Regions from separate parts of the Homo sapiens genome. Here region 2 is linked to region 1. Evidence: fine-mapped expression QTL. A gene starts in region 1. The other region holds a variant in brackets. All regions are shown on one strand. Distances are from middle to middle.

Region 1 (5,383 bases):
CCCTGATCTTTTACACTGAGTGAAGGTATTTCTGGGCAAAATAGAGTCTATTCTGGTAAGAAGTGTTAACCCTGGAGAGAGGGGCCTCTCACTGATGGGTGGCAGTGGGGGAAGCATCTTGCCTCTCTTGCTCTGTGGCCCTTTCTGAGCACCACCTCCTCTGCCAGGCCCAGTGTGCCCAGGCTTCCAATAGCTGTAACCCAAGCAGGGTGCTGGAAGGGTTTTCATCAGGTACCATGGCTGTCAAAAACATGTCCGCATCCCCTCCCCTCAGAGCAACGGAGCTTAGTCAAAGTTCCTAAATTTCTAGGGTCGCAACAGCCTAAAGCATTAAAGCAATGCTGGCTCAACCCCATGGAATGAGCAGCTCAGCCCATTGCCTAGGCCAGGCCAAGGTCCCCGTGCAGATTTAGAAAGTCAAGGGCTTGTTGGACAGAGGGACAGGGATCCTTGCCTTTGTAGAATTTGAATTATGCATTAAATAAAAGAACAAGAAGAGTTTACTACTTCTTGATATTGTATATTTCTTAGTCAAATGACTAAGAAATAGTGAATATTTTCTGTTATTTAAAAAATCCTGTCATATTCTCATCTGATAGTTACTTTTTTCAAAGGACAACCACATTCTCAATTCCTCAGACTGAAACATTCAGTTTTTATAGTTTCCACAGCTTATAAAGACAAAGGCATTTGGCTGCTTGCATTTTAATTTTCTTGAAGACCTAAAAATGGTTGGCAGATCAGAATGAATAAACAGGCTTCAGTAGTAAGTCCCCAAACCCTCACACTTTTTTTTACTCAAGCTATTTATGTAGCACAATTCATCCGATTTTTAAAAAATATATTATGAAACATTTGTTATGCAGAAAAGTATGGATAACATAACAAAGACCTTTGAACTCACCATTCAGTATAAGAAATAAAACATGACCCATCCAGTTGAAGTCCCCTCTATACCTACCCCATCCCCAGATAACTACTTTTTTAAATTTGATATCATTCCCATGCTCTTCTTATTTTACTATGGTTTTGTTTTGCATGTTTTAAAACTTCATATTAAATTATAATACATATTATATGCATTCATCTGTCGTTTTCTTTTTCCCCTTGACTTTGTAATCATGAGATTCATCTATGTGGTTATATATACACATACATATATCAAACATTTATATATCACATACATATATAATATATACATATCACAGTTTACATATTCATTACTAAATATTGCTAAATTGTTTTACAAAGGGGCTATACCAGTTTGAATACCCACTATCAATATATAAAAGAATTCTTGTTGCTTTGTATCTTTAACAAAACTTGGTAGTTTTTGCAGTCTGGTGGGTGAAATGGTACCTACCTCATTGAGGTTTTAGTTTGTATTTCTGGTTGTTAATGAGATTAAGCATGTTTATTTCATCAGATTTCAACTCTTTGAATAATCTGTTTATATCTTTTGAGTGTTATTCTATTGAGAGGTTTTGGTTTGGTTTGGTATTTCTCATTACCTTATAGGAATTCTTCATGTATTCTGAATGTTAAACCTTTCTCATTTCTGTGCACTGCAAGAATCTTTCCTCAGCGTGGCTTGTCTTTCTACTTTGCTTATGGTGAATTTTGGTGCACAAATATTTTAGGTTTTCACATAGTTACATTTTATCAGTCTTTCACTTTTGCTTTGTCTAGATCTTGTCTAAGAAATACTTCCCTACCTCAAGATCGTATTTTCCGGTCAGGCATGGTGGCTCACTCCTATAATCCCCGCACTTTGGGAGGCCAAGGCAGGTGGATCACCTGCAGTCAGGAGTTTGAGACCAGCCTGGCCAACATGGTGAAACCTCATCTCTACTAAAAATGCAAAAATTAGCTGAGTGTGGTGGCGGGCACCTGTAATCTCAGCTACTCGGGAGGCTGAGGCAGGAAAATCACATGAACCCAGGAGGTGGAGGTTGCAGTGAGCCAAAATCACCCCACTTGCACTCCAGTCTGGGCGACAGAGTGAGACTCCATCAAAAAATATATATATATATATTTTCCAGTATTTTCATCTAAAAGCTCCAAGTTTTGCATTTCACACTTAGTCCTTCAAATCTTTCTTGAGCTTAATATTTGTGTTTGATTTGGGGTAGTGATCCATTTTCTTCCATTTGGAAAACCAGCGGTCCCAGTACCCATTTATTGACTAGCCCACCTCTTCCTCACCAATCCCGCAAGGCCATTTCTGTCATCTGTCAAGGCTTGGGCTCTCTGCCCTGTTCCACTGGTCTTTTTGTCTACCCCGGGTGACAAACATGCTGTCTTAATTACTTTATTTAAAAAAATAAAAGGGTCTTTGGCATTCAGTAAAGCAAGTTCCTCCACCTCTCCACCTCATTCTTTCTCAAAATTATTTTGGCCATTTTGGGCACAACTTTAATCTTTCTCCTCTCCTTGATTTGCCCTAGCCTACTACAAGCAATCAAATGGCAAGACTTAAAGTAAGCAGAAGGGAGAAATCAAGCCAAAGCCAGCCCTGGGTAGTCCATAAGCTGAATATTTGGTTCCTAATAACTAAGACATTGCTGTGTAGTCAAGAGTATAGACAGCCTATATATTAATAAAAGTAGAGTATGTGTTTACAAAAAAAACAAAACTATTTTTTTAAATCTTTTCCAGGCTATAACAAGGGCCACATTTAAAAATAGAAACTGGAGCCCATCCTCTGGTCAGTACCAAGGTTCTTGCCTTTATTTTTAAAAATACTACTTTTAAATCTATTTTTTGCATACAGATAGTCACAGAGAGTTTTGTGAAATAGTGCTAAAACTGTTCACTTTTGCCTAGATCCCTCAGAACATCCAAACCAAAGGTCAGTCACTAGGAGACATCCCAGGAGCATGCTAATTCCATCACAGCAGGGCCTAAGAATGAGGTCATCTTTCTCTCATTCAAGGGAGACCTTAGTTTCCTGCTCTCAGCGACACTTCCATAGCCTCATGATAGCTGCTTGGTGTTCTACAGTGTCTCCAGATCCAGACCCTCTTATATGGACCGCAGGACAAAAGGACTCTGGCCACCCAGCAGGCCATGGGCATGCTGTCCACGTGAGTTGGCGTCCCTCACACTTTCTCTATCTCATTCCCTTTCCATTCAGAATCTCAAGAGAAAGCTGGTTCTAGAAGGTTCTGTGTAACCTTCTCTGGAATGTTTTGCTGACTTCCCATAACTTGCATAAAGGACAAGTTCCTTTGAAACCCGAGTTGTAAAAGATCTTCCTTGCCCAGGTATTTAAAAATAATTCATCCTTTAAGTCAGAAATATATGCTGGATGTTGTCTTCCTGCAGACCAGCCCCTGCAGGCTAAGGCACCTGCTGCAGGGGGAGGGCCCCGGGAATCCCTGTGGCCTCCTGCAGCCCTGCTTCCGGCTTCCCTCTGCCCTCGGATGCCCGTCAGGACTGGAGCCGGAAGGTTCACTGACTGACCTTAAAGGCTGGCCCCTACGTCCTTTCTCAGCCCGAGCAGAGGCCCAGCGCTCTGCCGTGGAGGGCCTACCTCACAGAGCCTGGTCCGCAGAGAGCAGCCCCAGGGCTGCCTGAGTCTGCTCAGGGAAACAGGGCCACAGCCCGGAGCAGACACAACCTGGCCAGCAGGGCGCCATCCCCTTTGAGGGCAGGGAAGGCGAGCCAGGGAGGCCTCCAGTGCAACCCTGACCATCCTCCTCACCCATGTCCTGCTCACCAAGCCAGCTAAGGGTTGAGGGCCTCAGCTCAGTGAGGATGGTCACAGGTGATTTTAAAAGATGGGAGGGGCCAGGCGAGGTGACTCATGCCTATAATCCCAGCACCTTGGGAGGCCGAGGCGGTGGATCACTTGAGGCCAGGAGTTTGAGACCAGACTGGCCAACATGGCAAAACTTCGTCTCTACTAAAAATACAAAAATTAGCTGGGCGTGGTGGCATGTGCCTGTAATCCTGGCTACTCGGGAGACTGAGGCATGAGAGTTGCTTGAACCTGGGAGGCGGAAGTTGCAGGGAGCCGAGATGGGGCCACTGCACTCCAGCCTGGGTGACAGAGTGAGACTCTGTCTGAAAAAAAAAAAATTAAAAAAATAAAAGATGGGAGGAAAACATCTCATGTTTTATGCTCTGTGCTACAATTCTCCTCTCATTTATAGCCCCTACCAAGTCTTCTCATAAATGGGTCTGGGCACCTGCTGGGCAGCAAAGGCTGGATGGGAACGGTGTGGGGGGCTGAGGGGCACCACACTCACCCCACCCTCTGCTTGTCTGCAGGGCCCCCAAGGTTGCTTCGAAGCCAAGGCAGGCATCAAAAGCCAAAGTGGCCTTCTGCACCAGCATCCCTCAGGACACCCTGCTGGGGAAGGCCCGGCCCGGCACAACAGCAGACTGAGGCCCCCACCCTGAAAAAGCCTAGGACATTCCTGGGCACTGTCATTTAGGGTGCTGTACAAATCACCTCCGCCTAGAAAATGGAATTCAACAGTCAGGATACAGATTTCCAAGGCCAACTGTTGGCCCCAACATGCAACAGTGAGACCATAAGCCTCCCGTGGGCCACATTTTGACAGTGGATGCCCTTCAGGGTGATATATGCTATAAAGCAGTTTTCTATCACCTAAGTGGTTTTTCTTGCCAACAAGAATTTTTACCCATCAGCACTACTGTGGCTGAAAAACTTCTCTTCAACAGTTCAGTGCGCCCTGTGCAGGAGTCAGCCCGGCATCTGCTTGTACACACAGCTCCTTGCATAGGTGTGGAGTTAGATCTGGACAGTGAACTTCAGGAAGTCCTTTCTTATAGGAGGCTAATAGGGATTGAGAATAACATGAGAAGAAAACGCTAATAAAGGGAAACCTGAACACGCTGCTGTCAGCATGTGTTTTCAAAGTGCAGCCTGCCTCAGAGTTCTTCGGAGCCTGAAAAGGGGTTTGAGAAAGAGCCCAGTAGGAGGGGCAGGAGGCCGACACACCTGACTTGGCCTGGGGCCCAGGAGGCAGGTGTAAGGGAGTGAAAAGAAAGGCTAGCCGGAGGCTGCGGGGGGAAGACCGCAGACTCCCTGCTGCTTCGCATCCCTCCTGTGGCCTCCACTGCAGGCAGGACAAACCTGGATGCCACCTGGAGCTGCTTCCTGAGTTGGCACACTATCGTGTACACAGCAGTCTTCAGCCCCCTGGAAGGAGGCCATAGTCGTGTGAGGATGGCAAAGTCGAACAGGAAGCTTTGAGTGCCTTCCTCCACGATGTCAACGAGGAGATCCAGTGCCAGATCGAGGTGGATGGAACACCCAGGGGTAGGGGTGCAGGTGTGGGCAGTGATGTCCCTTCCCCTCCCTCCCCTGGTCCCACAGACTGTGGCCATGAGGCTGCAGGCTGGTGCTATG
Region 2 (5,383 bases), 39 kb before region 1:
ACCTGGCAGAAGAAGGTGCTTAATCGATGTTAGTTCCCTCCTTCCCTGTGTCCCTCCAGTGCTCACCCTCAGCTGTACAAAGAGATCCTGGCTGTGACTAAGTTGAAGACTTCTATTGTCTCCTCGCTGAGTGTTCTCATCTCCAGAGTAAATACATTCAGGCTAAGTCCACAAATGTACCTTGATCTTCTTGTGTACTTAATCTCTACTTTGCTGTAGGAGAGATTTTGCTCTGTCACTGAACCCCAAATTATTACAAAGTGGGGGGAAAATATATTTCCCTAACCCCCAAGACCCACCCCATCCCCAAGAGCTGGGATTCCACACTCAGACTCCTTCCAGGGTTTGAAGTTGAGTGTTCAGATGATGGGGTCTGCCTGCAGAAATAGAAGTGTCTCTCATCCTTTTCACTAGTCATCAGGCTTTCTCTTTAGGAAATATTACACATTTTACCAATCCAAGGGGACAGGCCCAGTTAGATAAAAGCCTGCCAGCTCTGGCTGTGTCTGTCGACAGCTTGATTGGCACTGAGGAATCTGTGGTTTCCCCCAGACATACATACAAGGCACCAGGATGGAACAGCTGCTCTGTGCCTTGGCAGGGGTTGAGGTCCTTGGTCTTGTGGATGAGTTTTGTTTTTTTTTTTTTTAATTAATGACCTTGTTCAATGTGGAATATTAGAAGTTTTTTTTTGTTTTTAACCCAGTCCAACATGCCAGCACCCCAAGGGATTTGGAGATATTAAACATTCCTCCTCAGCTTCAAGATGACAGTTGATAAATGTAACCATAAGATACTGAAAAGAACAAAAGACATGAGGGGAAATGCAAGCCCTGGGGAGATTAATAAATCCTGAGGAGAAGGAGTGAGTGTGGTCAAACTATGGAGCCCCAGCGAGGCCCATTACTTGATCTCTTGCAGAAATCCAGGAGAGGCAAGCAGGATGCCTGTAATTCTGTTAACTGTGATTCCTAGTCCTTAAATGCTCTCAGATGCATGTAACAGGGTATTTATATTCCCTCAGCAAATGAAGCATTGTTTGAAAATTGTGAACAATGGTTGAGTTTGGAAAGACAGTGTAGTCTAAACACTAGCATTGTCAACGTCCTTTGCACTCACTCCCTAAGGAAGCCTCACTGCCCAGCATGTGCTGTGGTTCTCAATCTGTGTCACCCTGAGCCCTCATGTTCCATGGAGGTTCTTCTGGGGCAGCTAGCTGGGAGCAGGTAGTCAGACTTCCAGGCCCCTCCACCTGCTTCTGTGAGAGCGGCTGTTCTGCTCTTTCCTGCTGTGTATATTGAGAACCACAGAAGGTTTTGTTTGGGTTCTTCTGCTCCAGAAAAGAAACTTGAAAATCAATGGTGCCATGGTGTTTGCATCCTTTTACAAGTTGCTTCGTTCACTCAGTGGTATGTTTTTGAAATACAACCATGTTAACATATGTAGATGGAGTTCAATCAAGAACTTGTAGAATAAACCACAATATGTTCATTCCCCTGCTGATAGATATTTAGGTGGTTCCCCATTTTTTACCATCTCAATTAATGCATCAGTGGAGGGCATTTTCAACACAGGCAATGGGCGGTGCCCATTAAGCTGGACAAGAAGGGAAGGACAGCAGGAGGGTTGGATGACTAGTGAGAATGTCAGGGGGCGGTGGAGTAGATGTGCATGGAGGCAATAGATCTAGGGCCCCCCAAGAGCCAAAATGGGTCTGTGAGTTGGAGGATCCAGTGGTAACACAGAGTGGGCGATGATGAGGTCTGGAGTGTGACCCAGGGACTGGGCACCTGAGAGTAAGGAGGAAAGTAAGTTTGTCAGAAACCTGAGAGGCCAAGGTGTTGGCTAGGTCGTTGGCTGGACATTTCCGTGTGGTCCTTCAGCTACACTGTGCATCCTTCTCAGCCCTGCTCTGTGCCCCAGAGGCTGACCTTTAATTACCATCTCAGTGCCCTTTCCCTCAGACTGAGAGATACACAGCCTGGACCAGGGAAGACATGGAGACAGAGCATCCATTCCTCCAGCCCCTCCCCTCAAGGTCCCTGCAGGTAGGCCGTGTCTCTACTGAAACCCACCGCTCATTTCCCTACAATTCTTCTTTCTGGTTATAGCAAATGCCCCCAGCACCTTGTCTTGGGAGCCAGCGTGCTCATCTTGGGTTTCCTCCATGCCAGGGATCATTTTATTGACCTCTTTTCCTCCATTAACCTGTTTACATGTGCCATCTCTTTCCTGCCTGATTGAGTACAGGCCAATCTCATGCATACTGAAATCTTGGGAAATGATGACAAGAGTAAGGGTAGATAGGAAGTCAGTTAGCTGGGTGCAAAAACCTAGTGAGGGGCAGTGTCTGTAAATCTGCATAAAATACAAACTATCCTACATTTTTGTAGTTCACATGTGAGCTCCTTTAAAACTAAAATTCCTGCCTAAATTTTTAGGGGAATTTCTAATGTTAGCACAATATCTGGCATGTAGAAAGCATTTAAAAATGAACATAAGTTGAATAGGACTGAATTAAATTAAATGGAATTAAATTGAATTTTACTGAATAAATGAGATGCTAATTTTGCACATTTTAGACATCCTGGGTGTTCCCCCGTCAAACCCCCTTCCCTCTAGCATATGGTTTATAAAAGCTTCATGAACATCAAATAAATTACATTAGGGATTGAGTTTCTGAAGTGAATAATGAATAATAAATGTTTGCTTATGTTAGCATTTCA[T/C]GTAGAAAAATGTTTAAGTCATGAAAATTTTGTGATAAATTCAGATCCCTTTAAGCTTTCAGGACCCACTTTCTTTTTTTATTTTTTGAGACAGAGTCTTGCTTTGTCACTCAAGCTGGAGTGCAGTACACGATCACGGCTCACTGCAGTCTTGATCTCCCAGGATCAAGTGATCTTCCCACCTCAGCGTCCTGCGTAGCTGGGACTACAGGTGTATGCCACCACCCCTGGCTAATTTTTTTTATTTTTTAGTACAGACAGGGTCTCACTATGTTGCCCAGGCTAGTCTCAAACTCCTGAGCTCAAGTGATCCTCCTGCCTCGGCCTCCCAAGGTGCTGAGATTATAGGCATGAGCCAGCATGCCCAGCCTGACTCACTTTCTTGATATTGTGTGTATTTTGCTCTTGGAAAACTTTGCTTTCTGTCTCCATGGCAAAAAAACAACTTACAGTGTTTTCAGAACATGTAATTATTGATTTGAAAATAATTTTGTTAGACACATATCTATTAACATTTTCTTGAATTTATAATATTGAATAGGAAGAAACAAAATATAAAATCTTTCTTGTTTTGGTTTTAATCTAAAATACTATATGTCTTTGCATCATATGAGTTAAAGCTTTTCTGGCATTACACAGTGATTGTTCTCTCCAAATAACAGATCGTAGAGATAGTAGGGGAAAAGCAAAGTAAACATGGCTCAATTTGCATTTGGTATTTTTTCGGAGGGTGTGGGTATTTCCTCTTTTTTCCTTTCTCCAAACACTACACAAGCAATAATTTGACTCTATCCCTGTGGCTGCTATTGTCTATATACACATGAAGTTGAATTTCATAGTGCCCGTTATTTGGAAAACATTTAAGTCAGACCTTAAGATTGGGCCTTTCATGCCAAATCAAGGACAGTGGCTAATTTGGGGTTGCCAAAATCACATATTCAATTCTTTATATTCTGTAATAAGAAAAGTCATTTTAAAGCAAAGGATATTGTTGGCACTTATGAATAAGAAATTCTGACTATTCTAATGCAGCAATAAAAATTATTACCTGCAGTCTTATTTTGGAGTAGCCCCAACATAAAAAGTCCAGAGCTAGTAGCTTAGCAGATTTTAACATGTGACAAGTAAGGTGACAGTCTAGAGTCAAAGATTCTATCTCCGCTCTGATTATAGTCTCAGAAATGCATTCGGCTGGTCATAAGAGGAGGAAGTACTGCATGGTCCAGACTAGAATGCTCAACTGGGATGACTTGATCTCCTGTGCCAGCTGCCATAGATGAATCACAGCTCCTGAGGACTGAATTAGGGTTCCCTGAGGAGTGTGCTGGCATCAATTAGTGATGTCTCCCACCACTGGCTAGGGTGGGGGGAATGGCAGCACTCAGGACATGATAGAGATAGCAGAATTTGAAGTTAGAGGATCAGGGTCAGACTCTTATCTCTATCTCTTATTAGCTGTGAGATATCATAATCACCCATTCAGCAATCTTAGTTTTCTCATGTATAAAATGAAGATAACAATTATCAAGAAAATTAAAATTGGTATCACAAATAAAAAAGAATTAAAGTGCAGCTTACATCTTATGAATTGCTAGTGTGTTTTGCCTATCCCAATCTAGTGTTTTCCTTTTTTATCTTTTTGTGTGTATTTGTGTATGACAGGGTCTTGCTCTGTCACCCAGGCTGAAGTGCAGTGGCATAATCATAACTCATTGCAGCCTCAACCTCCCGGGCTCAAAGCAATTCACCCGCTTTAGCCCTCCCGAGTAGCTGGGACTGCAGGCATATGCCACCATGCCCGGCTAATTTTTGTATTTGTTGTAGAGACAGGGTTTCACCATGTTGCCCAGGCTCATCTTGAACTCCTGAGCTCTAGCAATCTCCAGCCTCAGTCCCCCAAACTGCTGGGAGTACAGTTGTGAGCCACCATGCCTGGCCTACTCATGGCATTTTAGTATTCTGTCACTCTTTTGGCAATTAATTGTGAACTACCTACCTACTGACTCACATTAGTGTATTATCTTACTTCACCGTATTTTATTTTTTGTACTGCACACACTTTCTAGCCCATGCCTCTCCTATAGTAGGCAATCCTAAGTGTGAATGAATGTAAACATGTTACTAATAGTATTTTAAAACTCCAAATGCTGACAGGGAGTTGAGTAGTTACTTTTTATTTGAAAGCAGGTATTTTGCATGTTATTTGAAAGGACTATTGTGATTTTATGTTCAGAAGATCATAGTTTTTTGTTTGTTGTTTAAAAACTTTTATTTTTTGAGACAGAGTCTCTGTCACCCAGGCTAGAGTGCAGTGGTGCAATCTCGGCCCACTGCAACCTCCACCTCCCAGGTTCAAGCTGTTCTCGTGCCTCAGCCTTCCAAATAGCTGGGACTATAGGCGTGCACCACCATACCCGGCTAATTTTTATATTTTTATTAGAGATGAGGTTTCACCATGTTGGCCAGGCTGGTCTTGAACTCCTGACCTCAAGTGATCCACCTGCCTTGGCCTCCCAAAGTGCTGGGATTACAGACATGAGCCACCGCGCCTGGGCAACAACATTTTAGTGGACTTTATTTTCAAGGAACTGAGCTGCTTTCTGTGCTTGGGCAGCTCCCCTGAGCAAGTTTGTAGAGGGTGCAGGCAAATGGGCTTG

Which allele goes with the higher level. Positions count from the first base shown, and alleles are read on the strand shown. Sizes are in standard deviations (SD) of each study's normalised expression.
With allele C in place of T in region 2, the expression in tibial artery of the gene that starts at base 3,086 in region 1 is higher (moderate effect, 0.40 SD a copy in GTEx).

The links. PIP is the estimated chance that this variant, and not a neighbour inherited with it, causes the effect. A credible set is the group of variants that fine-mapping cannot tell apart.
Region 2: its variant is the best candidate, but not a certain one, in a credible set for the expression of TTC23-AS1 in tibial artery (GTEx, PIP 0.87).

What each region holds. Positions count from the first base shown.
Region 1 is chr15:99,137,020-99,142,402 of GRCh38, reverse strand. It overlaps TTC23-AS1 (TTC23 antisense RNA 1), which reads right to left and starts at 3,086. Exons shown (of 2, transcript NR_186223.1): 1 at 1,364-3,086. TTC23 (tetratricopeptide repeat domain 23) reads left to right here. Exons shown (of 14, transcript NM_001288615.3): 13 at 3,004-3,086; 14 at 4,276-5,383. The coding sequence ends at 4,393. It also overlaps a transcript of SYNM not described here. RefSeq lists an enhancer at 5,138-5,383.
Region 2 is chr15:99,175,611-99,180,993 of GRCh38, reverse strand. The region is part of intron 9 of TTC23 (tetratricopeptide repeat domain 23); the gene reads left to right. Among named protein-coding and RNA genes, the nearest start is that of TTC23-AS1, 39 kb to the right of the region's middle. The variant T/C (reference allele first, on the strand shown) is at 2,727.